2 separate regions of the Homo sapiens genome follow, and region 2 is linked to region 1. The links come from fine-mapping of genetic effects on gene expression. A gene starts in region 1. The other region holds a variant in brackets. All regions are shown on one strand. Distances are from middle to middle. Region 1 holds the start of CCN2 (cellular communication network factor 2). Region 2 holds the start of LINC01013 (long intergenic non-protein coding RNA 1013).

Region 1 (15,684 bases):
CAATGGTTATATGAAATGTAATCCTGTAGTTGTTAACTTTCACACACATGTGCAGGTCAATAAGAAAATTCCCTCATCATAACCCCACCATTCCTAGACAACCCTCTCTCTCTGCCATGTGTAGTTATGACAAATCGCATTCCATTAACAACATGAAACTAGTTATGATTCCAATCAAATCCTTCCATGGTTAAAGGAGAGAGGGAGAAAGCTGTAAACCTGAAAGGCAAAGCATATTCAGTTTGAGGAAAGTGCATTTTCAGTTAAGGCAAGTTCATAAAATAAATATCAATAACATGGCAGGACATGTTTATTAGGGGATACTCGTGAAAAACCTATGTTGATAGTAGACATTGCTTCAGTGCTGATGGTTTGTCCCAGACTCTGTCATGATATTTATCCCTAAGGGTAGCTTATCAGTGAATGATACAATTATTCAAGAAGACCTTCATGATGTCTATGGTTGGTCCCAGTCTCAGCCGAAACAAGACTGCATAGGGTTAGACTGAACGCTTTCAGTGTGGGCTGAGGCTGACATCAGAGCAGAGCACACCCTGATATTAAGCCTCCCAAAGCATACCCATCATCTTATTCATTTTTTCCTTTTTTAGCTGCATCAGTTAGTTAGCGGATAAGAAGAACATATCTGTCTACATAGCAACATCACCAAAATCTTAATTGTTAAAAAAAAAAAAAAAAAGCAAATCTAAGCCCAAATTTCTCTACTAATACAGGTCAGTAAACATTTTCTTTCTACTTCATGTTTATCTCAGACCACGGCACAATACAATAGTGACTGCCAGTTAGCCCACAGGTGTTTATATGCCTTCTAGGGTGTGTCCTTTAAGAGTTTAAGATCTGAGATAACTATCTTAAGGACACACAGTGTTTAGAGATCACCATATATAGAATGGAAAGAAAAGAAGCCGTGAAGTTTGGAAGGAAAGGCAAGGGGTGTTCTCTTTAGAAGAACTGAATTTAAATTCACTTGTCCCTTCTCCACCTCTAACCAGGCTTGTGTATGTTAGCATTATTGGACCTCAATTTCCTCACCTGCAATATGGGTAGAATAATACCTAATGCGATTGTTATGATAATGAAGTAAGATGGTAACCGTGAAAGGGCTTTGTAAATTAAAAATTTCTACATAAACAAAAGAGAATGCAGTCAAAATTTTGAGTATCTATTTTAGGCACCCAGATAGAGTTCTAAGAAGCGTTCCCGCTAAATTGTTCAGATAAAATTGGCATCGTGCATTCTAACATCAAATTAAACAATGCATTAGTTGACTTTTACTTCAAATCTGATGATGTCAGGATTTTAAATAGAATGTGGTTTTTCTTCATATGTGGTGAAAGTTCTGACTTAGAAGATAAGATACCTTCTCAAAAAGCCTTATCCAGGTGCTCAGATTTTAATATATGATTCCCATAGGCATGGTTATTTAAAGATTTACACACAGGAAAATAGTTTAGAAACTCTTTGGATGATTCAAACAACTTGGTTTTTAGCATTCTAGAACATACTGGCTACCAAGTTTGCTTTTAATTTGAAAACTTGTCACCATCATGGTAGCACAGTTCACATTACAAAATGAAATGAAAGAAAACTGTCAACCCAAATATATGTAAAGTGTTAAAGTCTGTAGCATCACATTAAGTAAAATACCACCTTGGTTTCCAAGAAATACAAATCTAAAGAAAATGTGATGGACACAAGCAATCATAATTTTTTGGTTGTTTCTTTATCATTTGCATACCATATTCTTATTAGTGATAAGTTACACATTTTTCACTGAAGAAAGGAAGACTGTTAGGAACTCCCTAACTCTCCCCATCCTCCACAAATCAATGAAAACTATGAACATATAATGAAGATGAAGGGAGTAGATGCTATCAGGTGACAAAAATAAGCTGAGCATAGAATTTTGTTTTAGGTATCCTGAAAACTATGATTAAAATGCATGCCCACATTATCATCGAAGTGACAATATAAGGTATATAAGAAGCATAAGACAAATTTAAAAGTTTCATCTGTGGCCCGGCGCAGGGGCTTACGCCTGTAATCCCAGCACTTTGGGAGGCTGAGATGGGCTGATCTCTTGAGCTCAGGAGTTCGAGACCAGCCTGGGCAACATGGCAAAACCCCATCTCTACAAAAAAAAAAAAAAAAATTCTTTTAATTAGCTGGATATGGTGGTGCACACCTGTAGTCCCAGCTATCCCAGCTACTTGGGAGGCTGAGGCAGGAAGATCACTTGAGCCCAGGAGGCAGAGGTTGCAGTGAGCCAAGATCATGGCACTACATTCCACCCTGGGAGACAGAGCCAGACCCTATTTCAAAAAGAAAAAAAGTTTTCATTTGTTAAATGTCTCTATCAATCCTGAATATCTAATCTAATAAAATAAATAAATAAATAAGAGGTAGGATTTGATTTTCTCTGAGCTCTCACCTAGTTTTAACACTCTAAAACCCATGCAGAGCTGGACACTGTTATAAAATCAAACTGTGACAGGCTTTTACAGTCAATCTGAGTTGGGCTTAGTTTTGAGAGCCACTGAAGAATGGAAGAGAAGGGCAATTTTAAAACTCTAATACCTTTATGAAAGTGCTTTCATAAATATTGTCTCCTTGAGCTGCACATTAACTGTGAACAGGTGGGAAATTTCAGGCTCAGAGAGAGTAGGTGTCTTCCCTGAGGTCACTGGCAAGCAAATGGCAGGTATGGAGCTCACACCTTCACCTCCTAGCCAGTCCCCTAGGCTCCACCTAATGGTATTCCAGGGAGTTTGAAGTTGTGAGAAGGGACCTCAGGCCTCTTGGCTAGAGGTGGGAGCACATTTCCAGGGATGAATGATGGGGTCTGGCTTAATCTGCACCCCTTTCCCACCCCGCAGCAGAATCCCTAGGAATACATTCATGTATATTTCACACTAGTCCTTTCAAAATATTTATCCTTTCACTTACTTCTATTATTTGAGATAAGATAGCTAGTCCCAATTCTCTCTTCCTCCTAAACCTATTGATTGGGTGTCCCCAAATCACACATCTTAAGAAATGCTTATTTCCTCTGTTTTTCATTCCCACTCACTTAAATATCACCTTAAGTATCACCAAGGGGATGCTTCACATTTAGCCCTGATGAAGCAAGGGGCTGTAAATACTCCTGGTTGCTAAACGGTGATGAATTTGAGATTCTAACCTGTCGAGGACAGTGTAAGAGACCACCAGGCTCATTCCTACCTAGCAGCATCCTCATCTGACACTATCTTAGATGAACAAAAGCTGACTAGAGGCAACACAGGATTCTAAGTAAACTACTTTAAAAAAAAAAAGAGTCAAATTAACAAAATAAGTGAAACAAACAGTAAGTTGAAGGGATATCATCTTACAAAACAAAACTTCCTTTCTCACCCCTCTGGCCTCCAACTCTATGGACAAGCGAGGAACAGGCAAACATAAAACACAAACCACATGCAACGGCCTTGACTGCCTTCTGACAAATACCTTTGCATTAGAAAATATCCTAAGAAAGTCAGAGAACTAATTATAAGGAGGAAAAGGCATGAAGGTAATGAATGTAATTTAGATAGTAAACATCCGCGTTTATCTTCCCCGCCATGAACTCCCAGCAAGTACGCCCTCTCCTTAACCTTCATCTTAAGCAAACAGGAGGTCATGTCAGCCAAACCAGGGTCCCTGAAGATTTCAGAATAATATTTATTACTATTTTACAAAAGGCTTCTGGGATACCATTTTTTTTTGTAGAATTAATTTACATGATTGAATTTGAGGCACGCTAGAAACATCAGAAACCTCCCCCTGACCCACCATAAGGACAAATCGCTCACTGTCCAGATGCCCATATACGGCCAGACTTCCTCCTATAAGTCTGACAGCTCCGTGTATGCATTGCGTATGGGTCTTGGCTCTGAGTCACATTCCTCCGGCATGTTTCCCTGGGAGCTTTGATTTCCGCTTTGAGGGCTGGCACTGACTCCTACTTGCTCTTATAAGAAAATGTCTACAACTAAAAGTTGAAAATGTGCAAGATTCCTTCTTTAAGTACACAAACACTCCAACTCTGGCCACTTTTCTGTAGTCCTGCCAGGTTTTCTCTGTGTCTGATACCTGATCAAGAAACCTTTTTTTTTTAGGGAGGAAAAAACAACAAAAAACTTAAGGGAAGGAATGTAATACATCCACAGCTGAACATCTTACAAGACTTAACCAAACGACCAGTACAAATGATGCCCTAGTAGACACACACACATACCTTATATAGCTTGGTAAACAGGACTCAGTGGCCAGCTTAGTTAATTCCTCATTTTACCACGAGGAAAAAATGCTCTCTAAAAAGCATTTGCTAGATAAATACTTGCTTACAAGTCAAAATTAGTGCATCTTAACCATTTTGCACACAAATTCAAAGATCTTTTTCTCCCAACTCTGACCTGCTGTCAATCAAAGGGGCTGGGGTAAGTCAAAGTTGGATGAAGTTATAAGAAGCCACTATTTCCCACTTTACCGCCCAGGCACACACAAACATTTGCTGAGTCATTGATAATAGTGCAAGAATTCAGATCCCATGGCATGAATTATGGATGGAGTATCAGCCTTTCCCTTTGAGTTTCCTGGCATTTGATGGTCCATATCACAATAAAAACATACTTCTGAGTCTGTGAATGTCTTGGGTGTCTTCTCTCATTCTCTCTCTCTCTGGGTGTGTGTGCATGTATGTGTCTGTCTGTCTCTGTGTCACTCTCTTAATAATAGTCTTTTAACTCCTTCAAAAAGAGTTTTGATCATAAAGCCTCAATCTAACCTGATAATGCACAGAAACTTTTTCTTTCCTGAGATTTCATATGTTCTATATATTTCAATATGCTTATTTCCTCTTAAGCAACATTAAAATCATCTATTTGGAACTGACTATAGATTTTTTTGAGACTTCGAGGGACTATGAGAATTTTATAGTAAAACCAAATTCTTTCTTTTGACATTTTTAACAACAGAGCAGAATGGTAATATACTTATTATACACAGAGATTGAAAAAAAATCAAGAAAATCTGAAAAAAATAAAGCACCAATTCCCTGGAATTTTCATCTACTCAGCCCTCACTGAACCCTATTAAATTAAAAAAATTATGATTACTTTCATTTTTTAAACAGAAATGGGAATATGGCTCCTACGTGTGACTTCCCTGAGATCTGCGAAAGGCAGTTCCAAGAATACAACCTAGGCCATCTAACTATAACCCAGTACAACAATTTATCCCCTCCATGAATGAGTCTCCCTGCTGCAGGCATGAAGATGGTGGTAGCTTTCAGACTCTCCTGAGGATTCAGAAATTCCCCAACCCTTCTCCCACCTACCTCACTCTGCAAGCTAGGAGAGCTCACCACCAAGCCCACATCCCACCTTAGGTGAGACTCGCACTGCACATCCCTACCCTTCCCCAGCCACCACACCTTTCCAACCATTAGAGGTAGATGTAATTGGGGGTTTAGGTCTTGAAAGGTTTCACTGTGGCTTCCCACATATTTTGGACTTTTAAAATCATCCACAAGGGAAGAAAAAGTTGAGGGCCAAGTTGCCTTTAATACACATGTGGCTATTAAGTTAACTTGGAATGTTCCTTCTTTAAATAGGAACTCTTAGGCCTCTTCTTTTTGAGGAATGCTTGGAAAGGACATTAAATAACAATGACGAAAATTCTTCCTGAGCTTCAGAGGGCACCCCCACCCCTTTGCTGGCCATTCACACTATTGACATGCAACTACACTCTATAACATGTGGCTGGCTTAACGAGGTAATCGTGCACAGATGATATGCTCTATGCTGAAGTTGGAGTGGTTATATTTCTTCTTGGCTATTTTTCAACAGACTGTACTGAAACTTTAAAAATTTGATCAGTTTAAACAGGCTGTTTTCAAATGATAAATCTATAATGCATTGTTTCTAAAGCCGATCTTTGCACCACAAACAGATATGCTTATCTTGAACCCATGCTCTGAAGCATCAACAACTTAAAGGAATCTACTCATTGGTAACACCAATGTCAAATGATGCGGCATTACAGAATACAAAAATGGTATGGCCCTAGAATCACTCTCTTTATATAAAATGGGAACTGGAGGTATTAACAAAAAAGCCACTAAACAACATAGATTCCAAATGAAAGCACAGTGAATTAGTTGGGTCTTTAGTGAAGCTAAGTAGCACTATATTAAGAAATGGAGATATGCTTAGGTTTATTGGCCATATTCAACATCTGCACACACCCAGGGAGAATAAAGCCTATTCTTTCCTTGTCCTGACCTCACTCCCTCAGGCTGCATGTTCCTTGGGTAATGAGAAGTCACAATCACTATTCATAGATGTGTGGGGAGTCACTAAAAATATATTATTCACTGTCAATCTTAGTTTATATCCAGATACAACAGGGTACACTGCTCTTGTAATGGAATCAGACTTCTTATTTTAACAAGACAAACCAAATCCAATCCACATTTGAAGATTATAGGTTTTAATATAAGAAAATGCACTCATTTCTCAAAGACCCTAGTGAAGCTGTGTTTAAATGCTCCTAGGTGAACCCCCTTTGCATCCCAGTGTTCCCACCCTGACACCCAGAGCCCCTACCTACCCAACACAGAATCATTTGCTCTGATAGAACAATGGATCCCTTTTTCTGGAAACATTGATGGCCACTCCTCCCTTGTCCTTGCCTATATAAAACTCCTACATATATTAAGAGAAAACTAAGCAAGAGTTTTGGAAATCTGCCCCAGGAGACTGCATCCTGAGTCACACGCGTCTTTGTTCTCTTTCTTGTCCCAAAACCGTTACCTCAAGTGACAAATGATCAAATCTCAAATATAGAATTCAGGGTTTTACAGGTAGGCATCTTGAGGATTTCAAATGGTTAAAAGCAACTCACTCCTTTTCTACTCTTTGGAGAGTTTCAAGAGCCTATAGCCTCTAAAACGCAAATCATTGCTAAGGGTTGGGGGGGAGAAACCTTTTCGAATTTTTTAGGAATTCCTGCTGTTTGCCTCTTCAGCTACCTACTTCCTAAAAAGGATGTATGTCAGTGGACAGAACAGGGCAAACTTATTCGAAAAAGAAATAAGAAATAATTGCCAGTGTGTTTATAAATGATATGAATCAGGAGTGGTGCGAAGAGGATAGGGAAAAAAAAATTCTATTTGGTGCTGGAAATACTGCGCTTTTTTTTTTCCTTTTTTTTTTTTTCTGTGAGCTGGAGTGTGCCAGCTTTTTCAGACGGAGGAATGCTGAGTGTCAAGGGGTCAGGATCAATCCGGTGTGAGTTGATGAGGCAGGAAGGTGGGGAGGAATGCGAGGAATGTCCCTGTTTGTGTAGGACTCCATTCAGCTCATTGGCGAGCCGCGGCCGCCCGGAGCGTATAAAAGCCTCGGGCCGCCCGCCCCAAACTCACACAACAACTCTTCCCCGCTGAGAGGAGACAGCCAGTGCGACTCCACCCTCCAGCTCGACGGCAGCCGCCCCGGCCGACAGCCCCGAGACGACAGCCCGGCGCGTCCCGGTCCCCACCTCCGACCACCGCCAGCGCTCCAGGCCCCGCCGCTCCCCGCTCGCCGCCACCGCGCCCTCCGCTCCGCCCGCAGTGCCAACCATGACCGCCGCCAGTATGGGCCCCGTCCGCGTCGCCTTCGTGGTCCTCCTCGCCCTCTGCAGCCGGGTAAGCGCCGGGAGCCCCCGCTGCGGCCGGCGGCTGCCAGGGAGGGACTCGGGGCCGGCCGGGGAGGGCGTGCGCGCCGACCGAGCGCCGCTGACCGCCCTGTCCTCCCTGCAGCCGGCCGTCGGCCAGAACTGCAGCGGGCCGTGCCGGTGCCCGGACGAGCCGGCGCCGCGCTGCCCGGCGGGCGTGAGCCTCGTGCTGGACGGCTGCGGCTGCTGCCGCGTCTGCGCCAAGCAGCTGGGCGAGCTGTGCACCGAGCGCGACCCATGCGACCCGCACAAGGGCCTATTCTGTCACTTCGGCTCCCCGGCCAACCGCAAGATCGGCGTGTGCACCGGTAAGACCCGCAGCCCCCACCGCTAGGTGTCCGGCCGCCTCCTCCCTCACGCCCACCCGCCCGCTGGAAAAAGAAACCGCTCGGACTGAGTTTCTTTCTCCAGCTGCTGCCAGCCCGCCCCCTGCAGCCCAGATCCCAACTCGCATCCCTGACGCTCTGGATGTGAGAGTGCCCCAATGCCTGACCTCTGCATCCCCCACCCCTCTCTTCCCTTCCTCTTCTCCAGCCAAAGATGGTGCTCCCTGCATCTTCGGTGGTACGGTGTACCGCAGCGGAGAGTCCTTCCAGAGCAGCTGCAAGTACCAGTGCACGTGCCTGGACGGGGCGGTGGGCTGCATGCCCCTGTGCAGCATGGACGTTCGTCTGCCCAGCCCTGACTGCCCCTTCCCGAGGAGGGTCAAGCTGCCCGGGAAATGCTGCGAGGAGTGGGTGTGTGACGAGCCCAAGGACCAAACCGTGGTTGGGCCTGCCCTCGCGGGTGAGTCGAGTCTTCCTCTAAGTCAGGGTCGTGATTCTCTCCCAGGGAGGGAGTCCTAACTGTGCCGACCGAACGGGGGAAATACCTTATCCAGGCGTTTTACATGGTGTTTGTGTGCTCTGCTCTCGCAGCTTACCGACTGGAAGACACGTTTGGCCCAGACCCAACTATGATTAGAGCCAACTGCCTGGTCCAGACCACAGAGTGGAGCGCCTGTTCCAAGACCTGTGGGATGGGCATCTCCACCCGGGTTACCAATGACAACGCCTCCTGCAGGCTAGAGAAGCAGAGCCGCCTGTGCATGGTCAGGCCTTGCGAAGCTGACCTGGAAGAGAACATTAAGGTACATGTTCTGCTCCTATTAACTATTTTTCACAGGAAAAACAGTGGATAGGACCCAACTTAGGGCTCTTGCCACGCTTGTTAGTATAAGCCCGTTATCTCCAAAACTATCTAACCATTGAGCTGTTTTGCTGGAATGAGAGCTTGTGTAATAGCAACCACCAGTTTTCCACTACGAAATCTTCCACAGGGTTAGTTAATTCAAGACATTCCAAGAGAGGCTCTGGCTATTTTTGGACATAGCAAATGAGACTCAAACTTCCTCCCCTCAAAATATAAACAGAAGTCAGACAACAGAAGACTAAAACACAGAGGGTTGAAGAAAGCCACTCCTCTTGTAGAGTCGCTGATTTTTTTTTTTCCTCTCTCTTTTCCCTTGTCTTCCTTAGAAGGGCAAAAAGTGCATCCGTACTCCCAAAATCTCCAAGCCTATCAAGTTTGAGCTTTCTGGCTGCACCAGCATGAAGACATACCGAGCTAAATTCTGTGGAGTATGTACCGACGGCCGATGCTGCACCCCCCACAGAACCACCACCCTGCCGGTGGAGTTCAAGTGCCCTGACGGCGAGGTCATGAAGAAGAACATGATGTTCATCAAGACCTGTGCCTGCCATTACAACTGTCCCGGAGACAATGACATCTTTGAATCGCTGTACTACAGGAAGATGTACGGAGACATGGCATGAAGCCAGAGAGTGAGAGACATTAACTCATTAGACTGGAACTTGAACTGATTCACATCTCATTTTTCCGTAAAAATGATTTCAGTAGCACAAGTTATTTAAATCTGTTTTTCTAACTGGGGGAAAAGATTCCCACCCAATTCAAAACATTGTGCCATGTCAAACAAATAGTCTATCAACCCCAGACACTGGTTTGAAGAATGTTAAGACTTGACAGTGGAACTACATTAGTACACAGCACCAGAATGTATATTAAGGTGTGGCTTTAGGAGCAGTGGGAGGGTACCAGCAGAAAGGTTAGTATCATCAGATAGCATCTTATACGAGTAATATGCCTGCTATTTGAAGTGTAATTGAGAAGGAAAATTTTAGCGTGCTCACTGACCTGCCTGTAGCCCCAGTGACAGCTAGGATGTGCATTCTCCAGCCATCAAGAGACTGAGTCAAGTTGTTCCTTAAGTCAGAACAGCAGACTCAGCTCTGACATTCTGATTCGAATGACACTGTTCAGGAATCGGAATCCTGTCGATTAGACTGGACAGCTTGTGGCAAGTGAATTTGCCTGTAACAAGCCAGATTTTTTAAAATTTATATTGTAAATATTGTGTGTGTGTGTGTGTGTGTATATATATATATATGTACAGTTATCTAAGTTAATTTAAAGTTGTTTGTGCCTTTTTATTTTTGTTTTTAATGCTTTGATATTTCAATGTTAGCCTCAATTTCTGAACACCATAGGTAGAATGTAAAGCTTGTCTGATCGTTCAAAGCATGAAATGGATACTTATATGGAAATTCTGCTCAGATAGAATGACAGTCCGTCAAAACAGATTGTTTGCAAAGGGGAGGCATCAGTGTCCTTGGCAGGCTGATTTCTAGGTAGGAAATGTGGTAGCCTCACTTTTAATGAACAAATGGCCTTTATTAAAAACTGAGTGACTCTATATAGCTGATCAGTTTTTTCACCTGGAAGCATTTGTTTCTACTTTGATATGACTGTTTTTCGGACAGTTTATTTGTTGAGAGTGTGACCAAAAGTTACATGTTTGCACCTTTCTAGTTGAAAATAAAGTGTATATTTTTTCTATAAAGGGCTTGGTTATTCATTTATCCTTCTAAACATTTCTGAGTTTTCTTGAGCATAAATAGGAAGTTCTTATTAATCATAAGATAATTCACCAATAATTTTCTAAATATCTTTAATTATTCTATACATTAATAAATTGATTATTCCATAGAATTTTTATGTAAACATACTTCACACTGAATCAAGTATCACAGACTTGCAGGCATACACACCACATTGACTATACAGCCATTTTTTTTGTTATCTTCACAGAACTTTATAGACACTTTAAATTCAATTCTCTCTAGATTACTTCAGTCTCCATTAACCCTGTTGTATTACACTTGGTCCTTTTGGCATTTGTACCTCTCTGGCCGTTATAGGTTAGTTTCCAACCCTTCACATCACAAACTAGTCTATGTGCCTTGCACGTGGAAAATGTTTACATTTTTTAAAAATTTTATGCTCTAGGTCTGTTTCTGAACTTCATTACCTTACTGTTAAATCTGAAAATTATGAAATGAAATCCTCATTTAAATGGAGCTATTTCATAAGTCTTGTTTTGTATAATTCCGTTTTTGGTTGCCATGATAACCAATGACAAACAGATGGCATAAATAGAAAAGGGAGGATGAGCAAATCTTCCATTCATTAACATTAATAGAAATTTGTTTTGAAAGTAATTCCTCCATTTGCCCAAGTCTTTAGCTTTATCAGACTTCCAGATTAATGCATCCTACCTTACCAAGTGGTTTATACATGAGAAAATGGAATTGTTCAAGAAGCCTCATGTGGAAACAATATTGTACCTACCCAGGTAGGTTTTTACTAAAGAGTGAACCAAAGTGAATGGTAAACAAAAGCAATACACCAAAGGCAACTAGAATCTTCTCCACATGAGGATAGCTGAGGATTCTAGGGGAAAAAAAAATTGCAGACAGACTAACTTTTCCCAAGGTAATTAGCAACGTTGTAGTGCCAATGTCATTTGGACAGACAAAAATACACCTGAAAATAAAGACTAGCTCTACAAACAACTGTCCACACCACAAACCAAAGGGAAAACTTCCCGTGTTCAGAATGTGAAAATTTATGGTCAAAACTCTGGGCTTTAAGGATACACCCACATCTGTATATAGCAGTGCTGCCAGGAGCAGCACCCCACCTCCCCAAATAAATGCGCATGTACACATACACATAGGCACACACACAGAGTACACTGTTAGTTCACACTTCCTTTCTGTCAATTAATTCCTAACTGCAAAGATGAAGGGCCATGCATGATAAACGAGACTGACTACTGAATTAGAGCATTCTGGAAATATAGAAGCAGCAGGAAAAGCATAGATTTCACATTTTCCAAATACCCACATTAAAGAAAAAAAAAAGAGTCACTAGATTGCAAAACAAAAATCCCACAGGCAATGTTTCTACAAAAATTAGATGGCAATGCACACTTTCACCCCCCAAATATCGGAGGTAGGGGGTGCCAAATCATCAACCACCGTAAGATCTGCACCGTGTCAGCACATGTGTGAGAAAAGCAGAGAAACAACAAGGTATCTGATGCTTCTGAGAACACGAGAGCTCTCAAACAGCCAGCAGGTAGTCACTAGATATATAGAAGGCCAGGCTGACAGCAGCTGTTGAATCTAGTAGGGGTTTGGCCTAGCACTCCAACAAAGCTTACAAGCCAGGGCTGCCTCCCAGGAGAAGATCCTCATACTCCTGGAAGTGGAATCTAAATTGAGCAGGTCACCAGACAGATGTTTCTCAAAAGAAGACACACAAATGGCCAACAAGTATATGAAAAAATGTTCAACATTACTAACCATCAGGGAAATGCAAATCAAAACCACAATGAGCTATCACTTCACACCTGTTAAAATGGCTACTATCAAAAAAACAAAAGATAACAAAACTGTCAGCAAGGATGTGGAGGAAAAAAAACCCTGTGCATTGTTGGCAGGAATGTAAATTAGTACGGCCATTATGAAAAACAGAAAGTTCCATAAAAAATTAAGAATACAATTACTATATGATATAGCAATCCCATTACTGGGTATACACTCAATGAAAAAGAAGTCAGTATGTTGAAAAGATATCTGCACCTCCATGTTCATTGCAGCAGTATCCACAATAGCTAAGTTACAGCATCAACCTAAGTGTCCATCAACAGATGGATGGATAAAGAAGATGAGGTATATATACACAATGGAGTACTATTCATTAAAAAAGAAGGGAATCCTGTCATTTGTGGCAACATGGATGAACCTAGAGTACATTATGTTAAGTGAAATAAGCCAGGTTACAGAAAGAGAAATATAGCACTATCTCACTCATATGTGGAATCTAAAAGGTTGACCTCATAGAAGTAGAGAGTAGAATGATGGTTACTAGGGGATTGGGGTTAGGCAGGAAAGTTGGGGAGATGTTAGTCAAAAAATATAAAATTTCACTTAGGCAATAAGAATAAGTTCAAGAGATCTATTTTACAATGTGATGACTCTAGTTAATGATACATTCTATTCTTGAAAAATGCAAAGAGAATGGTTGTAAAGTGTTCTTAGCACAAAAACGCTAACTCTATGAGGTAATGCATATGTTAATTAGCTAGATTTAGTCATGCCACAATGTAAATATACTTCAAAACATCATGTTTTACATGATAAATTAGGACTTTGTCAATATAAAATAAAACAAAATAAAAATTGAGTGGGTCAGGGACAACAGAGACATTGAAGGATTTGGATTAAAATGAGGAGGGAAACAGAGGTTTAAAATCTCAGAAGGTAAACTGCAATATTTTTAATGCTGCATGAAAACAATAAAAGAGGGAGGTCTGTGAATTTAGAAAATTAAACCAAACCTCCTTCCTGAGCAAACTTTAGTAAAACTAATTTTATATAAATTAAGAAAACAAAATTATTGAAGCCAAATCCCTACAAAGTCACTATATTTAAAAAAAGAAAATAAAGAATAGAATAACTTTTCTGCAGATAATAAAAAATGTGAGAAATACATATCTACAAAATATAGAAAAATTATAACCTACTATTTCAAAAGTTTAAGAAAATGATGTTGGACATAAATGATATTAATAGTAAGGAAATGATGACATAAAATAGCAACATAAATCAGAATTAGCAAAACTTAAAAATATAGTTTCAGAAATCAACAGAGATTTAGAAATAAAGGAACTATATCAAACTACAAGGAGCATAAGAGTGAATATACTCTTACAGATAAGAAAACAAGTTTAAATATAAAAGAAGAAATAAACATATTGCAATAAAAAGTAATAAATATTGTGGACAGGCAAAGAAAATCCAATATGTGGAGGGTAGAAATTCTTAAAGAAGAAAAAAAAATCCTAAAAGCTATAAGTCAAAAAAAACTTTACTAGAATAAAAAAGTATTTGAAAGCACAAGTTGAAAGGGTGTGCCATGTGCCTAAACAAATCAACTAACAGCAAAACACATTCTAGTAAAACTGCTGGAGTTTAAAGAAAAGGGAAAAGCTATTTGAACATGAAGACAAAAAGAACATGAGCCTTATAAATAAAAAGAAAATTAGCTCATCGTTAGATTTTTTTTACAGCAATACTTTATGACAGAAAAAAATGGAATAACTTATTTAAGATACTTAAGGAAAGAAAATGAGAGTCAAGAAACTTTTATCCTCTAAAACTGATTTTCAAGAATGACTTGATTCTTGAAATCAAACCTTGAATGACTAGGTTCATCCCTGTTGTCACAAATGACAGGATTCCCTTCTTTTTTAATGAATAGTACTCCATTGTGTATATATACCTCATCTTCTTTACCCATCCATCTGTTGATGGACACTTAGGTTGATTCCATAACTTAGCTATCGTGGATAGTGCTGCAATGAACAGGAAGGACACAGACAAACTGTTAAAAACACACAAGAACTCAGGGCATATTTTTCCTGTGAGCCCTTGCTGAGGAACCTACTAGCAAACAAGCTCAAACAACACAAATGTCTGAGAGATACTAACCTAAGGACTGTAGTGAGAATTGAATATAGCTCACCTTTAGAACTAAGACTGAATGAAGGTTAAAAAGGAGAAAGTACTGTATACAGTGTAAAAAGTAGAACATTTCTGCCTGTTTATTTGCATATATTTATTGGCATATATATTTATTTGCATATATATTAGATAATAAGGAAGTTAACAAATGTCATTAAGATCAAATCAAAAGGATTAGGGAAACAAATTGAAGCCAGGCACAAAAGCATACAGAGTAGGGATATCTGCTCTGACACCATAGAGTACAACCATACAAAGTGGAAGAGAGAATGGAGATAGCATATGCCTTCCCCGCCAAAAACAATTTAACTGCTTTTAGTGATAGTGGTGGTATTAATATTGTTATTCTGGGAATGTTAGGTGTGGAATGTGTAAGAAAGCAAATTAGCCATCATGAATGTTCTAACTCTATCCCCAGCATTCATGAGTACTGAAATTCTCAGTGAGAAAGTCAGAAATTAGAGATATAATGGAAAACTGCTAAGGAAAGTTCTGTAGTCCAGAATTTGAACTGGAAATATAAGCATAAATTCGTGAGGTATTTTGTCTTTTAAAACACACACACACACACACACACACACAATTTTTCCCCCTACATCTGCCTACATAAGAGGCTTAGTTAGAATGACAACTCAAGACCAGTGAATATCACTAGGCCCAGATTTTACACTTGAAATATTACTTTCTACTAAAGAATATTAGGACTTCTTGGAGAATGAGTGATTCCAAGTCTGGGGCAAGAAATGTGTAAGATAAATTCATTTATGTTTAGAACATCTTTTCACATTAGATAATAAGGAAGTTAACAGATGCCATTAAGATCATATAAAAAAAACTCTGGAGACAAATTGAAGAGACTCCAACTAAAGATGACACAATTGAGTTTTAATAAGAATGAGAAAGGCAGTACATTGGGCCTATTGACTATGCTTACATTCATTAATTTATAATGATCGTTAAAGAAGAACAACTGGCCAGGTGTGGTGGCTCACAC
Region 2 (15,684 bases), 180 kb before region 1:
TAGAGGGCAGATGATGTGTGCTGTAGAGCTCAGCCTTGGGACACATTCTCATGGATATTTAACGGTGTGCTCCTTCACAGTGGTCCTGTCCCAACATAAGAAACAGATGCAGCAGGATTTGATGTCAGTTTAAAATTCATAATTTCAATATTGTGCCAAACAATCCAAATTCAAAAAGGAGACCAGTCTAGGGTAAAAAAACCAACTGGTTGCCAGAGTCACATATATATTTTTTGTGCATTTTCTAGAGTCCATGTATAGAACCTGACTACAAATAGTCTTTTTAAACTAATGTGCACAGTAGCTCTTCATCCCACTTGTATGAGAACACATCAAAATGGCAATCTGAGGGTGTAATCATCTATTTTTAATACCAATGTTTTCAGGACCCATTTAATTAAAACAAACAAAAAAGATTTCCTTTCTTTGAACCCACAAGTCTGATAAGCAGCCAGTGCCATTTCTTGGTGTAATCTTAGTAAAACACATTCCACATCCCAAGAAGTTTTTATGAAACCATTCAAATAATTTCAAACATTCTCTTCATTCTATTGTCCTGTTATTTAATACACACACAGACACACACAGTCAAAGCACATGCCCAGTTGTGCACACATAAATGGGCACATACAAGTGGGCATGCACAAGCCTGCACATTGTCTAAAGGTATTTGTTATACAAACATCACAATATCATTACTTTTCTTTATCTTGGATTCAGGCACACTACATTTTTTAGTGTACATTCAATAATATGCTGATAGTGAATTCAGCTTTTATATAATCTATGGATTAAATTTTTCCAGGAACTTCCAATTTTACTCCAATATGATTCCAGTATTCTGAGAGAAGGTTATTCCAACTAGAATGTGCTGAAGGGATGGATGTGGCTTCCATGCAGGGCATATTTCAGCTTTTTCCAAATAACATTCTTGTAGAGATTACAGGATAATCTGGAAGCCAGACCCAGCCAATTAAAACAGTAATTGAAATGGCTGAAAATGTTTTCCTTGGCAATTTTTTGTTATTTTGCTTCATTTTGGGTTTCCTTGAATAACAAAAAAACTAGGGTCAATCATAAGACTCCTAATTTATTTTCTTGGTTATCTTTTCTCATCGAACAGAAAAGGGCTGCTGTGGAGCTTAAATTAAAACCTGAAAACTGTGGTATGGGGTGGTATGAAGGCAGGCATGAGAAAACATGAAATGATTCTTAAGCTAACACAAGTAAATCTCCTCTGAGCATAGAAGATGTGGGAGTTTCTGTTTTAGGTGGTAAGAGTGAAATGGGGCGGGGGATTCAAAAGGAAATATAATAAAAAATACAGAAGAGGCTTTCTTGTAAAATATAGGTTTAATTTTTTTGAGATTAATAGGTACTTGAAAGTTGAGACTTATAATTTTAAGACATCTAACATGAAGAACTAAAAATCATTTATGTACCATAACTCTCTTCCACTGAAATCAGTTGTGTACTATTGAATGATTGATCATGTCTGGGGTGAGAGAGTATCTGATGATTTTTAGTATTTGCCAATTTCCATAGTGTAAACATTTTTATCACGGCTGATTTCAGTCTGCCGATCTGGCATTGATGAACATAGAGCTGGAAATAGATAGGCACCATCAATTTTGCAAGGCTCTGCAAACTGCTCCAGCACACTTCTGACTAAAGTCATCACTTTACAAAAGAAGACAGATATGAAAAAGCAATCGCAATTGATAGCAAGTAAAAATATCAATAGAGGAAATTAATAGGCAAAGATAAGCATCTCACAAATTAATTAATCTAAGTTCTGCTGATTAAAATGGCAAAACTTGAGAAAACCCAAATTATGTAACTGATTTAAAAAGAAAAATACTTTTCCACGTCATTCCATGATGTAGCTTCTTTCCTTTAAGGCTCTACTTTTAAGTCAATTCCTCTATGAACCCCCTCTGAAGAAATCTGAAAGTAGTCATTGTAACCATGTTAGCATCCTCTTGGAATTATGATGACTTCAAAATATCTTAATACTACTGTATCTAACTCCACACATTGGAATCCCTTGGGAGCTTCCATAAAGTACCAATTCCTTGGTCCCACACAGGACCAACTAAATTAGAAATCTTGGGTAGAGCTCAGCATCTATAATTTTGGAAAGCTCTCCATGTACTTAATTTGCAACCAGGGTCGAGAACAACTACACTATATATTTATTTGTCTGTATTTTCATTAAAAGTGCTCTGAAGCAGGGTTATGTTCCATTCTCTTAAAGTATGGCCCTGTAGCTGGGCCATATATAAAATTTTTTTCTTCCTTTATTCATTTTCCCATCTGCATTGTACTGGCAAATGTGGTGAATCAATAAAGACTTTTGGTTAAGTTTTAAAAGGACTAGAAATACAATGTCGTTTCTATGGATTGTAGATTGAACTTATGTTTATTCTTATTTTCTTATTTTTAGGTTTCAAACCAAGCTCAGAAATTTTTGAGAGGGATCTCAGTCACCAGCAGCATGTACTAATTAATAATGATTTTCAATTATTCCACACAACACATGTGGAACAACTCAACCTTTGACTTAGAAATGGAAACTAATTTTAAATTTGATTTAGTGAATAATTAACTCATGAGATTTATCTACATTATGCTAATATGAATATCTTTATGCAAAACCAACAAAGGAAGCAAAAATTCACTCATTTAAATAATGTAAAAAATATATATATATTAACAATATAGGTGAGGTTTTAGCTTTTTCCTGGAAGGACAAACCATACAATGCTATAGCATGCATGTTTATAGGATTAATTAATTTACATTCTTCTTACTCCAAAACAATCTTAGGCTATTTAGAAATGATTCTACCCTATTTTCCCATGCACAGTCATCATCATTAGTAGCTGTATTGATCAAAGTTCTATCTGTGAATCTTGGAAAGCCACGCTTCATGTGTAGAAATCTATGCCACCCTTAGGCAATGCAACAGAGCCAAGAATAGCAAGAAGCACAACAAATAGCAGCTGTGGCTCTTTGCATGTGTGGTACCATTTAGGCTAATGCCCAGGATAGCATATCATTTGTCCAAAAGGTGCAGCTGCACCAGCTGGCAGACTGTTGAAGGCGGCAAAAACACAGAAGGCAGAAACTGGCACCGATCCTTGCCTCTCCCCAAACCCACTCAAGTTCTTGCAGCACTACTCTGTGCAATGTTCACAAAGAGTCATGGCCAGCATTTGGGCAAAACATGCAATATGACTTGGCTGAAGAGCAGGTGTCATCATTTGACTCAGTCACTGGTAGATGCATCTGAAATTAAGTGTATTAGTTCACCACTGCTGCATAACAAACCACCCCAAAGCACAGGGGGCTTTAAACAGCAATTACTTATTGCTTACACCTATGTGGGAAGGATGGGGTTCAGATGATCTAGGTTGGACTTGGCTGGTGGCTTTTTTTTCTCACTGTGATTCTGTGAATTGACCAATGCATCTCTAGCCTATGTGTATTCATTCTGGGGCTCAGGCTGAAGGGGCAGGAGCGACCTAAAAGGAATCTTCTCATGTCAGTGACACAAATGCAAAGGTGCAAGTGGAAATACACTTACAGAGCTTTTAAGGCCTAGGCTTAGAACTGGCATATTGTCACTTCTGCTCATATGCTATTGATCAAAACATGTCACATGGCCAAGTTCATATTTAAGCAGGGAAGAACCACACTTTTCACATGAAGAGACCATGGAAAAGGCTTAGATAGGTTCAGGGACACATAAAGAGAATTAAGTTCAACATATTTATCTGACATATAAACCCATTACTTTTTACAGAAAAGAGGGATGATTATGATGACAACGGCAATAGTAATAATAGTAGCTATCTTGTACTATGCATTTGCAATGGTCCAGGCACTCTTCCAAACTCTAGATAGATAGATAGATAGATAGATACATACATACATACATACATACATCATACATACATACATACATAGCTAGGTAGATAGATAGGCAGATGAAGTTCCATGTAATTCTCACAATAATCTTATGAAATAAGTATTACTGTATCCTCCTCTTATAGACAAGGCAACTGAGGTAGAGAGGGGACTTATAAGAAATATAATGGATTATTATTATTATTATTATTATTATTATTATTATTTTGAGACAGGATCTCTCTGTCACCCAGACTGGAGTGCAGTGGTGCAATCATGGCTCACTACAGTCTTGACTTCCCAGGCCCAAGCAATCCTCCCACTTCATCCTCCTGAGTAGCTGGGACCACAGGCGTGCACCACCATGCCTGGCAATTTTTCGTGTGTGATTTTTGGGTAGACAGGGTTTTGCCATGTTGCCCAGGCTGGTCTTGAACTCCTGGGCTCAAGTGATCTGCCCACCTTGGGCTCCCAAAGTGCTGAGATTACAGGCATGAGCCACCATGACTGGCCAATACGGGACAATTATTAAATTAAAAGAACAATATGTGCTCATTTTCTTAACCTATGGTACAGGAATATTATGTGAATTATGTTCTGTAACTTAAGGATTGCCTCCCATGATATTTACTGTGTTGGGAGTAGAAATAGACAATCTGGATGAGCATGCCATGGTCATCAAGGAAGAGAGACATGAACATGATGTGCTCATCTCTGGGGTTTACCTACAGAATGTGCACATCAGTAGAACTTAGTAGCAGTGACCACCAAAACAAACTGGTAGACTTTTGAGGAGGAATTCAATTTGCTTTCTATTTCTTTCAGGTTTGAGGCTTATGGAAATCTGTACATGGAGGAACCTGTGGGGTTTGAAAATGGAAATCCTTTGCTCGTTTATAATTTAGAGCACGTTGGGAAAGATGAATTCTACAGAAAGGGGAGAAGCAGAAGCTGTCATTTCCTTTTTAGCAGTAGTGGGCAATGTGGGGAATGGAACAGACAACAGATACGGGATTTTACAGCAGCTTCTGGGAAATTTGCTGAAAACCTGCCCCAGTGCCACAGCTGTGGCTGAGATCAAGAGTCATAGGGTAGTTTCTTATGATTCTTGCAACTTCCTGAATTCCTCAAAGGTTACAGTGGCTTTGTCTGGCCCTCACTCCTCAAATGGACTTTTTTGGTGCCTAATTCCCTATGTTTAAGTCTCCTCCTGTTTGAAGTCTCTAGTTGACTACTCTAGTTGATGAAATGAAACCTGTTTCAGGTGATGAGTGTTGAAAGCTTGTAAACAGGGATACATTCAAACAATGATGATACATTTGCTCAAAAGAGAATGATTATCTTAAAGATATCCTCCAAAGTAAAAAATTGATCAACAGAAAATGATATCTTAATAACAATAATCTAGATGTAAAGGATCTGTTAACAAAGATTAGGATATGGGCTTGGCAGACAAGTTGTCAAGTGGAAGAAGGTGTACTTCACAACTAGAGAAGGTCACTTAAAAACCCCACTTTTTAAAGGTATAACTGACAAAAAATAACAGCACATATTGAATGTATACAACTTTAGTTTGGAGATAAGTACACATCTGTGAAATCATCACCACAATCTATGCAATAAACTTATCCATTGTCTCCGAAAGTTTTCTCTCACCCTCTTTATTATTTGTGATAAGAACACTTAACATAAGATCTATCCTCTTACCAAATTTTTAAGTATATAATACAGTACTTGTAACTATAGACACTACACTATACAGTAGATCTCCAGGGCTTGTTCATTGTATATAACAGAAACTTTGTGCACTTGGAGCAATAACTTCCCATTTCTCTCACCACCCCCTCCAACTCCCGGTAACCATCATTCTATTCTCTATTACTATGAGTTTGACTATTTTAGATTCCACATATAACTTAAATCATACAATATTTGTCTTTCTGTGCCTGGCTTGTTTCACTAGCATGATGTCTTCCAGGTTCATCCATGTTGTCACCAAAGGCAGTATTACTTCTTTTCTAAGGTTAAATAATATTCCATTGTATATATATATCACATTTCTTTATCCATTCATCAGTCGATGGACATTTAGATTGATTACATGTCTTGGCTATTGTGAATAATGCCACAGTGAACGTGAGAGTTCAATTACCTTTTAGAGATCTTGCTTTCAATTCTTTTGGATCAATAACAGAAGTGGGATTGCTGAATCATATGATAGTTCTATTTTTAATTTATTGAGGAGCCTCCATGCTGTTTTGCATAGCGGCCGAAGCAGCTGCACCCATTTACATGCCCCCTAACAGTGTACAAGAGTTCTCTTCTCTCCAGATCCTCGCCAACACTTTTTATCTTTTGCTTTTTGGATAACAGCCATTCTAATGGGTGTGAGATTCATTGTGGTTTTCATTTGCATTTCTCTGATGACTAGTGATGTTGAACATCTTTTCATATGTCTCTTGGCCATTTGTAGAAAATGCTATTCTTGAATTCATTTTCAAAATATACATTGAAGTCTGTTTTTGTAAAACTTAACAATAATCATCAAATTAAAAACTAGATGTGTCAGTCTCAAATCATTTAATAATATTCAATCAAGAATAAAAAATTTAGAAAGCAAAACTCATTAGTTCTTTTATTTACTCAGCAATTATTTCTTGAAAAGCTGTAAGTGCTAAGCAGTACTTAGATGCTGGGGGAAGTAACAGAGAGCAAAAGATTTGAAGACAAATCCTTGCCTTCATGGAGCTTGGTTTTAGAGTTTGATATAGACAATAAAGATGTTAAGTACTAAGATGCTTATATAGTACTTTAAAAAGAAGATCATTATGGCTGGGTGCAGTGGCTTGCCTGTAATCCCAGCACTTTGGGAGGCCGAGGCGGGTGGATCACCTGAGGTCAGGAGTTTGAGACCAGCCTGACCAACATGGAGAAACCCCATCTCACCTAAAAATACAAAATTACCCAGGCATGGTGGCACATGCCTGTAATCCCAACTACTCAGGTGGCTGAGGCAGGAGAATCCCTTGAACCTGGGGGCAGAGATTGCGGTGAACCAAGATCATGCCATTGCACTCCAGACTGGGCGACAAGAGCAAAACTCCATCTCAAAAAAAAAAAAAAAAAGAAGAAGATCATTACTATGAAAGATAAAATGGATATGAGGAATTCTGGGGTGTTAAGTTTGCAATTTTAAATAGGACAGTCAAGGTAGGCCTTATTGAGAAAGTGATATTTGAGTCAAGACTTAAACTAAGCAAAATGCGAGCCATGGAGATAACAAAAACAAGATTTTTCCAGGCATTGGAAATTGTTTTTGCAAAGAAGCTGAGGCTGGGATGTGCCTGGCATGTTTGGGGAAGAACAAGGAAACCAGTGTTGCTTAGGTGCAGAGTTTCTGTGGAAGAAAAGAAAAAAAAACTCGGAGGAAATAACTTATTTAAGAGTTAAATTGAACAGTTAGCTAAATAGCAACAGAGGAAGATCTCAGTGTTTCCAGTTATTTGGCTTTTCTTTTTTTTTAACACCTTATTAATTTACTTAGCTAATGAATTAGCCAGGTAGGAAGGTAGGTGGGTGGGTAGGTAGGTAGGTAGATAGGTAGCTAGCTAGTTTTAAGGAGGTAATACATGCACACCGTATACAATTCCGAATTTCCAGTGGTCTGAAGGAGTGTGCACAGTGAAAAGTCAGCCTCTTTGATGCACTTACACAGTGTCTCCCTACCCACAAGGATCCAATGTCACTAGTTCTCCTATGTATCTTTCCAGAGACATTCCATGACTCTTTCTAATATTCACTGCCAATTGAGGCAATTTGGAAAAGCAGAGTGTGTCACTGAGATCTCGACAAAGTTCGCTTTCATAGACGCACCTGCATCTTTGTACAGTAATTACAGACCCCGAAAGAGGAGGTCAGCCCAGATGGTGCTCATTTCATATGGGTGGGGTGGGGCCTATCTTGTGAAGTCACCAAGTCACCTCATGAAGAAGTGACATGGGTGTGGCCACTATTTATTCTGACAGCTATTTTTGTTCTCATATCCAGAGGAAGATTCCGTGGCTGTCGTTTCTTGTCATTTTCCCCCAAGTATAAGGAGTGATTTCACTGCATGCATGAAAACAGGTGTAATGAAATTTAAAAAGAAATGGTAGGCAAAAATAAATAAATGCAATAATAAAGTGAATAATAAATGGAAAATTTCTGTGTTTCACCAATCAATATGGACCAGGGACAATGCGTTCTTTGTTTGATAAAAGTTAGAAATCCAAGTTTTTCCTCAAGTGCAGCCAAACTACATGTAATATATACTTTAGGCATTCGGGCATTTCCCTTATAGGTAAACAAACAGCAAGCCATAAAATCTTCTGTATTTCTTTGATGTTACAGACAGTCTTCTGTTTTATCATGGGCTGCAAGTCTGATTCTGTTCTGTGAGATGTCTTGCATAATTTTCTAGTAGTATCAAAAAAAAGTGCCATACAATCAGAGTCTACCTCTCCAACGATAGTAAGATAAAGGATGTTGATTTCTTCAGGAACATTCCTATGGCCCTAGCATTGTCATCACTCAACAGCCTGTCTCTATAATGACTACTATATTTTCTAAGACACCATCTCTGGAATTAAAGTGTATCTTTAGCTTTGTACTGGTGTTTCCAGTCCTTGAATTCCCCCAACTTGATTTTTCTTAGCCTAAAAAATGACCTAAATTTCCTTTTCTTTTATGTTCTACCTCTTTTTTGCCTCACCTAACACATGTAAACCACCATAAAAGTTGAGTAGTAGCTCTCCTGTTTTTCCCCTTAAGTTTTTTACTTACTCCAATACACATTTATTCTAGAAGGACATTTTGGTTCCAGCATATCCTCAAGTTAATGATATCATAATGTATGCTTCTGACTCAGTTTGAAAATCCAAATAGATTAATGACAGTAAAGACTTTTGAGAAAGTAAATAAATATATTAAGGATGCTTGAGAGACAAGTAATATAAATACAGTCCCCCAAAACAAGTAAAGAGAAAGCTGTGATTCAGTGATAGCAACTTTTACCTGATTCTTACCTTGTTCTCCCACTGTACTGCCTGCTCCAGGCTTCTTTTCCCAGCATAATCTATCCAGACCACTTGTGTTTAGTATCCAAGTGTAGCTCTCCTTTGTTCCAGGCTGAGGTCCAGGATATAAAGCTGATGCAGTCACAGGTTCTAGTGGGTTAAATAATACTTGGGCACTGCTGGATGCCAACTAGCACAGTTTTCTGGAGATGATGTCTTAACTGGAAGAATGGAATCCATTAGTTGGAATTTCAGTTGCTGACTGATCAGCAGAAGAAATATGTGGGATAAGAATGTCTTCTGCAGCCCCTTAAGTCAAACCAGATAGGAAACTGCCTCCTCAGACTGCACGAGGAGTCTACTGAAATTCTGATTTTCTTAAATGTACAGCAAAGAAGTTTAAAACACCAAAATAGGGCACAAGAGAGTTATTGTAATATTAGTATCAACTTTAGGTGAGAATTTAGTCATTAAATATAATTTACTTCCTATTTATTAAAAATGCTGGCTTCCTGAAGTCATTCATAAGGAAATGAATCTGTGAGGCATAACTTGTGATCACAGCGGGGGGGTGAGGAAGTCCTTCAGATGCAGCTTCGTGGGGAAAGCGTGAGGAACAACTCAACTGGCTTCCTATGTGAAATAGACAGATTTGTCTCTAAGACGTTTAAAAAAGAAGAAGAAATAATAATTTATAACTTAGAAATTAAAACTGTTGAATGCCTCATCTAAGATGAGGCAGCACTATCCATTTCAAGGATTATAAAATGAGAGAAGTATGATTTGTAGAAATGAAATAGAACTTTTTCTAAGGGAAGCTTATAAACTTGAGACTACATATCAGACAAGTTCACAAGTTTGGGGAAAAGGGGTACATGTGTAAGCCTCTCATGTTGGGCTAAGAAAAGGAAAAAGTTGTTGGGTCTTGAGTTTAATTTTTAAATGTTTTGGTGAGTAGAAATGAGCTCATATAAATAACATTTCCTCTTTTGTGCTTTGCCTAAACTATTCTTGTAAATTGTG[A/G]TCTTTAGCCACACCAATCCCCAGAGTTCCTCAGATTTCTGCTTCAGTGCTGCTCATGTCATAAACAGAATTCTTATAAAAGCATTTTTAGAATGTAAAATCTGCAGTGGTCCAGAGATGAAGCTATGTTTTAAATAGACCTATATTATTAGTGAAAATATGGTGTAGTACAGCACACAGCACAGAGAGCCTGAGGGGTCCTGGTCCTAGGCCCAGCTCTTCTGCTGGCCATGTGGCAATGAATGCTTTGTGTCTCCGATTTTTCACTGGTGAAAGAAGAGGGATGAAATGAATGGCTCCTCAGTTATCTTCCAACACTGAGAATCTGCCTTTGTTATGTAAGAGTAGCCGGGCTTTCACTCAGGCCTGATCATGAATAACAATCTTAATAGTGGTGAGTAATGCACAGAGTCACTTTTCCACAACTAGGAGAATCTTGGGTCTTGAAGAAAACCTAGGAAATCATATCACCTTGTCCTCCATTGCCAGTGAGGGCTGCATCTTCATCCTTCAAATACGCTCTTTCAGGCTAATCTAAACAACTCTTCCCAAGGGGCAAACTTCACAACTTCTATGTCCTTAATGGCAGAAGTTCTTCCTTATGTTTGGTCTGAATCTCCCTGCTGAATTTGCAATTTATTTTCATTTGTCCTATCCTTAGCAGAGAGGGAGCACAACTGGGGCACACATTCAAGTGCTATCTATTATTAATCTGAGCCATAGTAAATTTGTTTGTACTAGAGTTTCTGGGGTCTTACATTGCATTCCAGTGAGATGATAGAACCTGATCCCTTGATGGAATGTTCTTTTTGAGGTCTAAAATGACTGAACGATAAAGGCTAACAGGCTGGCAGGAATCCTGAGCAGTTCTTGATAGTGGTCACAGGAAAGGGCATTGTTTCTTTGGCTGTCCAGTCTCCTAGCAACCTAGTGTACAGCGGCTCTTGACATAGGGCTCTCTGAAACCCCACATTTAGAACTATTAAACTATTTCTTCTAAAATTAAATATGTGCTCAGGCAACTGTATTTTAAAAATCTGATAAAAAGGTAATTTTTCCAATAGCACCTGGTGCTTAGTAGAGATAGGGAAAACTGATGAAAGGGAACATAATTATACCATCTAGCCCTACCCACTGCTTTCTGAAAGGTGAGCTCTTATTATGCCCATTTTACAGACAAGGCAGATGGACACACACTGAGAAACGAACAATGCTAACAATATCAACAGTTTAAGAGGGAAACGTTTAGGATTTGGAAAAGCAAATGAAAGCAGGTTTACCTTGCTGACACTCAAAAAGTAATAAGAGCTCCCTATTCACTTTCTGCCTCCTCCTAGTCATGTGGGTGTCCTGTGAGAGGCACAGAAGAGGAAAAAAGTGGTATTCCCTGGGGATGGACTTTCCCAGCCTCCTCCAGAGCAGTCCAGGTTTGTGAATCAATGCAGGAGGTGGGGGTGGGAGTGGGAGGGGTTGGCCAGGCAAGGCTTTCCCTTTACCCACACAGGCTGTGATTAAGAAGGCATCCATCTGTCAACAGAGGCTCTCAGCTGTATTTCCAGCCCAGCTTCCTCCCAACTGACTCATTCAGTGATGCCACAATCTAATGTTTATGACCTAACAGATGATCACCATGGAAGTAGCACAAACCTTGGACTGTTGAGGAGCAAAACCAGCGTAGAGGAGCTGGACCGTTTAGGAAAAGAAAAAATGAAGACCCTTATTCATAGAGACCACATGTTAAGACTGAACATCCCACTCCTCATGTGGGCATTTCCACCCATTACTAAAATTGATATTTGGATGCCTTCGTGCCTGTTGGAGAACCCAAATAAGGATTTCAGGTGACTGAGTACAAACAGATAGCATGGCATTTAGAAACAGACAGCAAGAAGTAGAAGGGAAAATGTGTGTGCAGCAATTTAACGAGGTTTGGATTACAAATTCAGTTTCCTTATCTTTTTGCCAGCATGTGGCAACAGTTCTAAAGGAGACAGAAAATGCATTGAATGCCAGGAGAAAGATGAAGATCCCCCCAAACTCAACTTTATAAACAGTCCTGGTGGAATATTCACAATGTGGAAGTCAGGATAAACTGGCTATTCCACCCGCCACTGCCCCCCAGGAAAAGAAAAGCCTAAATGAATAAGAAAGCCAACGGAAATAAGTGCTTTTTAGTAAAGATCATCGCATTTGGTGCTGTGAGTGGCAGGAAGCGTTGGCACAGACTTGGGAGCTACATGAGGACTCCGGTGGCGTGGTCAGGGTGAAGTGAGCCTGACTTCCTGGCCTGGCCTCCCCAGACTAATAATCAAAAAGAGCTGCCCTTCCCCAGCCCTAAACAGCCCTGTGTGAACACAGTGTCTCCTAGTAGTGCCTGTGGCTTACAAGTAATGTGAGAGTCTTTTTATAACTGTTGAGGTTTAACGTAAAAGGAAGCTCAGAATCAGCGGTAAAGGGAGGGGAATGTTGTGAACTACAGACCATCTGAAATGGGGAAAATCATAAATACCAGAGTGTCTGATTATTTGAATGTCTCTTGAAGTCAAATAATGAACCTTCTTCATGTTCTGCTTTTCTGGACTTGGCTCCCTCTGACAAATTTGCAGGCATCAGGGTCTGTCTGGAATTCCTTCCAAGTTGGAGGGATATTTTTTCCCTTGACATTTTGCAGCTGAGACAGCCGGAGCAGGAAGCTGAGGAGCGTAACATTACCAAATATGTCCTTTCTCCTGCCCGTAAGTTCTATTTCCACAGGAAAAGAAGGCAGATGCTGGCCAATGAGAACTGGCCAGTAGAAATGCAGCCACAGCAGGCGGCCTCTACTGGAAGTGAGGAAATTGATCAGATGCCATTTTTCACAAAAATGGAAACTGTTCTAGGTACCACCAATTAAAATTTGTGCTACGCTGGAGGAAGAAGTTTGACAGGTTCCTACAAGTTGCCCAGCTATTTCAGGGGAATTCTTTATCACTCTATTGGTCTCATTTTCTCAACACCCCTGGAGTGGGAATTAGAGAGTTGGCCTTGGCTGCTGACACACTGTGCTTTTGACCAGATCATTTCTCCTAGGATGTGGGGGAAGCTTCAGATGCTTTATTGCTAAAATGAAGGTTTGGATGTGATGAGCTCCCAGATCCCCTCTGGGTTACCAAGACTGTGGTCTCCAAGCTTCTTCAATCGTGTGTTTCAACCACTAAAATAAATCCAAATATTTGTCCAGATGCTTTTCTTTATGGGTCTAAGACACTAATCTCAAACTATCGTATCTACATGGTCTAGGAAAGAACATAAGTGAGCAAAATAGCTGCAGATTGCATACTCTTTGCTTGCATATTAAATACAGTCAGTTCTCCATATCCGCAGTTCCACACTAGCAGATTCAATTAACCTTGCATTGAAAATATTTTTGAAAACAATAATACAACAATAAAAAATAATACAATTAAAAAAATAAGATAGCCATTTACATGCCATTTACATTGTATTAGGTATTATAAGTAATCTAGAGGCGATTTAAAATATAGGGAGGATGCGTGTACCTTACATGCAAATACTACATTTATACAAGGAACTTGAACAATCTGTGTCTTAGAACCAATCCCTTCCTCAAACCTCACCCTTATCCCCACCCTGCTGATACCAAGGGCCTGCTGAATGTAAGAAAATTCTTTTTTTTTTTTTGAAACATAGTCTCACTCTGTCACCCAGGCTGGAGTGCAGTGGTGTGATCTCAGCTCACTGCAACCTCTGCCTCCTGGGTTCAAGAAATTCTCTGCCTCAGCCTCCTGAGTATCTGGGATTACAGGTGTCCACCACTACGCCCGGTTAATTTTTGTCTTTTTAGTAGAGACGGGGTTTCACCATCTTGGCCAGGCTGGTCTCGAACTCCTGACCTCGTGATCCACCCGCCTTGGCTTCCCAAAGAGCTGAGATTACAGGCATGAGCCACCGCACCTGGCCAGAAAATTCATTTTTTAAACATAATCTTCTTGTTTCATCTTTATTTATCCTACTTTTAAAAGAGAACGCTTACTGAGAAAGTTCTTTACTGAGGAAAATAACAACCTATGCATGTTTTAAATGGCCAGCAATGCTTAATGTTGAGTCAAGAACACTTTGGGGAATGGTAGAAATAGGAGTAATCTGGAGCATGGACACCCCATTGGTCCTAATGTGGAAACTGCTTCTCCAGTGGGTCACCTTCAAGCAGAAATGGAGGCCTACTGCTGTTCAATTGTGATTTTTCAAGAGAAATGGGAAACTCTATTTTAACGTGAAATTGAGTTAATTTCAAATATTTTGTCTCAAAAATTTTAGAGTCAAGATTTGAGGACAAGTGTATGATGGCAACGGGCCACACTCAGCCAATGAGTAGCTCCTTGGTGATCTCTGATCTAATATTCAGCTGATTTAGCTAGCCCTATAATTTTTTTGTGTGATAATATTGGAACTTTGCAGTCAGACCTCCATACTCCAGTCAGGGTAATTATGTATGTGTAAGGCAGAAAAACATGAAATATTTCATTAATATCACAGTGTTTTTCTTTGGAGCCACTTCTTGAATCTTCTTAAAGCTGCTCCATCAGACTAGTGATCTATGTTGTTCAGTCATGAAAGTAAGGAAAATATTCCATTGCTCTTGATATAGTTGTCACTTTTGCATATGAAAATCTCACAGAAAAAAATGTATTTTAAACAACATTAGATAAGATTGGCAAACTTTTTTTGTAAGGGTTCAAGCAGTAAATATTTAGGCTTTGTGGACCATATGGTCTCTGTTGCAACTGTGCGTGACTGTGCAAAATCAACCATAGACAATCCATACACCAATGGGCCTGGCTGAATTCCAATAAAACTTTATTTATGCAAACAGATTGTAGGCCAGATTTGGCCCACAGGCTGTAGTTTGCCAACTCCTGTATTAGATCATAAGCTCTTCTAAGTTGTAACCTGTACCTCATTCAACTCTGTATTTTCAGGCTACACAATCCTGGCACAGGGGAAGCACTCCATTAACATTTAAAAAAATAAATTGAAGGTTGTTGAACCTAGCAGTTTATGACAATCATAATTAACTTCCCATTTACATGATTGAAACTTATAGTAGTGTTTATAGGTTGTGTTCACTCTGAGACTTACATCAGCATTTGAACCTCCTCAGAGAGTTTGTGGCTTAATCTCACTGTTCAAAATGAGGGAAGGAGGTGCCCAACCAGACTCATGCAGCAACCTAATGGCTTGCTTACACCTCATTCTGAGACTGATGGATCAAAGATCAGGAGCCACAAAAGGACCCTCATGATTTTACAGAGAGGCTCCTTTACAAATCTTTACCTCCACTCTTCCTTTGACAATTTAAATGACCCCAAACCAAGCATCTATGGAGTCCTTACACTGCTGCACAATGGTTTTCAAAATGCTGGTTATGACACAGTGCACATATACTAAAACATTTCCCAAAGCAATCCTCATCCTTATGAAGGGTAATTCACTGGGATATTTTCCCTTTGCTTATATTTTATTTATTTTTTAGTGCTGATCATAACTCTCTAAATTGATTTTAGAGAAATTTTTCTAAGTAAAAATGAGATCAGAAGTCACCAAGCTGCTGTCCATTGGCTGGGTAGGGCCCTTGTCAGCATCCTATGCTTGGCTCTAAAATTTATGAGCCAAAGTTTTATTTTCAAAATGTCAC

The links.
Region 2: its variant is fine-mapped to the expression of CCN2 in whole blood (TOPMed, PIP above 0.99).

What each region holds. Positions count from the first base shown.
Region 1 is chr6:131,943,152-131,958,835 of GRCh38, reverse strand. It overlaps CCN2 (cellular communication network factor 2), which reads left to right and starts at 7,464. Exons shown (of 5, transcript NM_001901.4): 1 at 7,464-7,729; 2 at 7,844-8,066; 3 at 8,293-8,544; 4 at 8,676-8,887; 5 at 9,276-10,660. The coding sequence starts at 7,664. The coding sequence ends at 9,572. All of the region lies in intron 2 of CCN2-AS1 (CCN2 antisense RNA 1), which reads right to left.
Region 2 is chr6:132,127,775-132,143,458 of GRCh38, reverse strand. It overlaps LINC01013 (long intergenic non-protein coding RNA 1013), which reads right to left and starts at 10,887. Exons shown (of 6, transcript NR_187602.1): 1 at 10,748-10,887; 2 at 8,976-9,187. RefSeq lists enhancers at 10,053-10,554, 10,323-11,522. The variant A/G (reference allele first, on the strand shown) is at 9,990.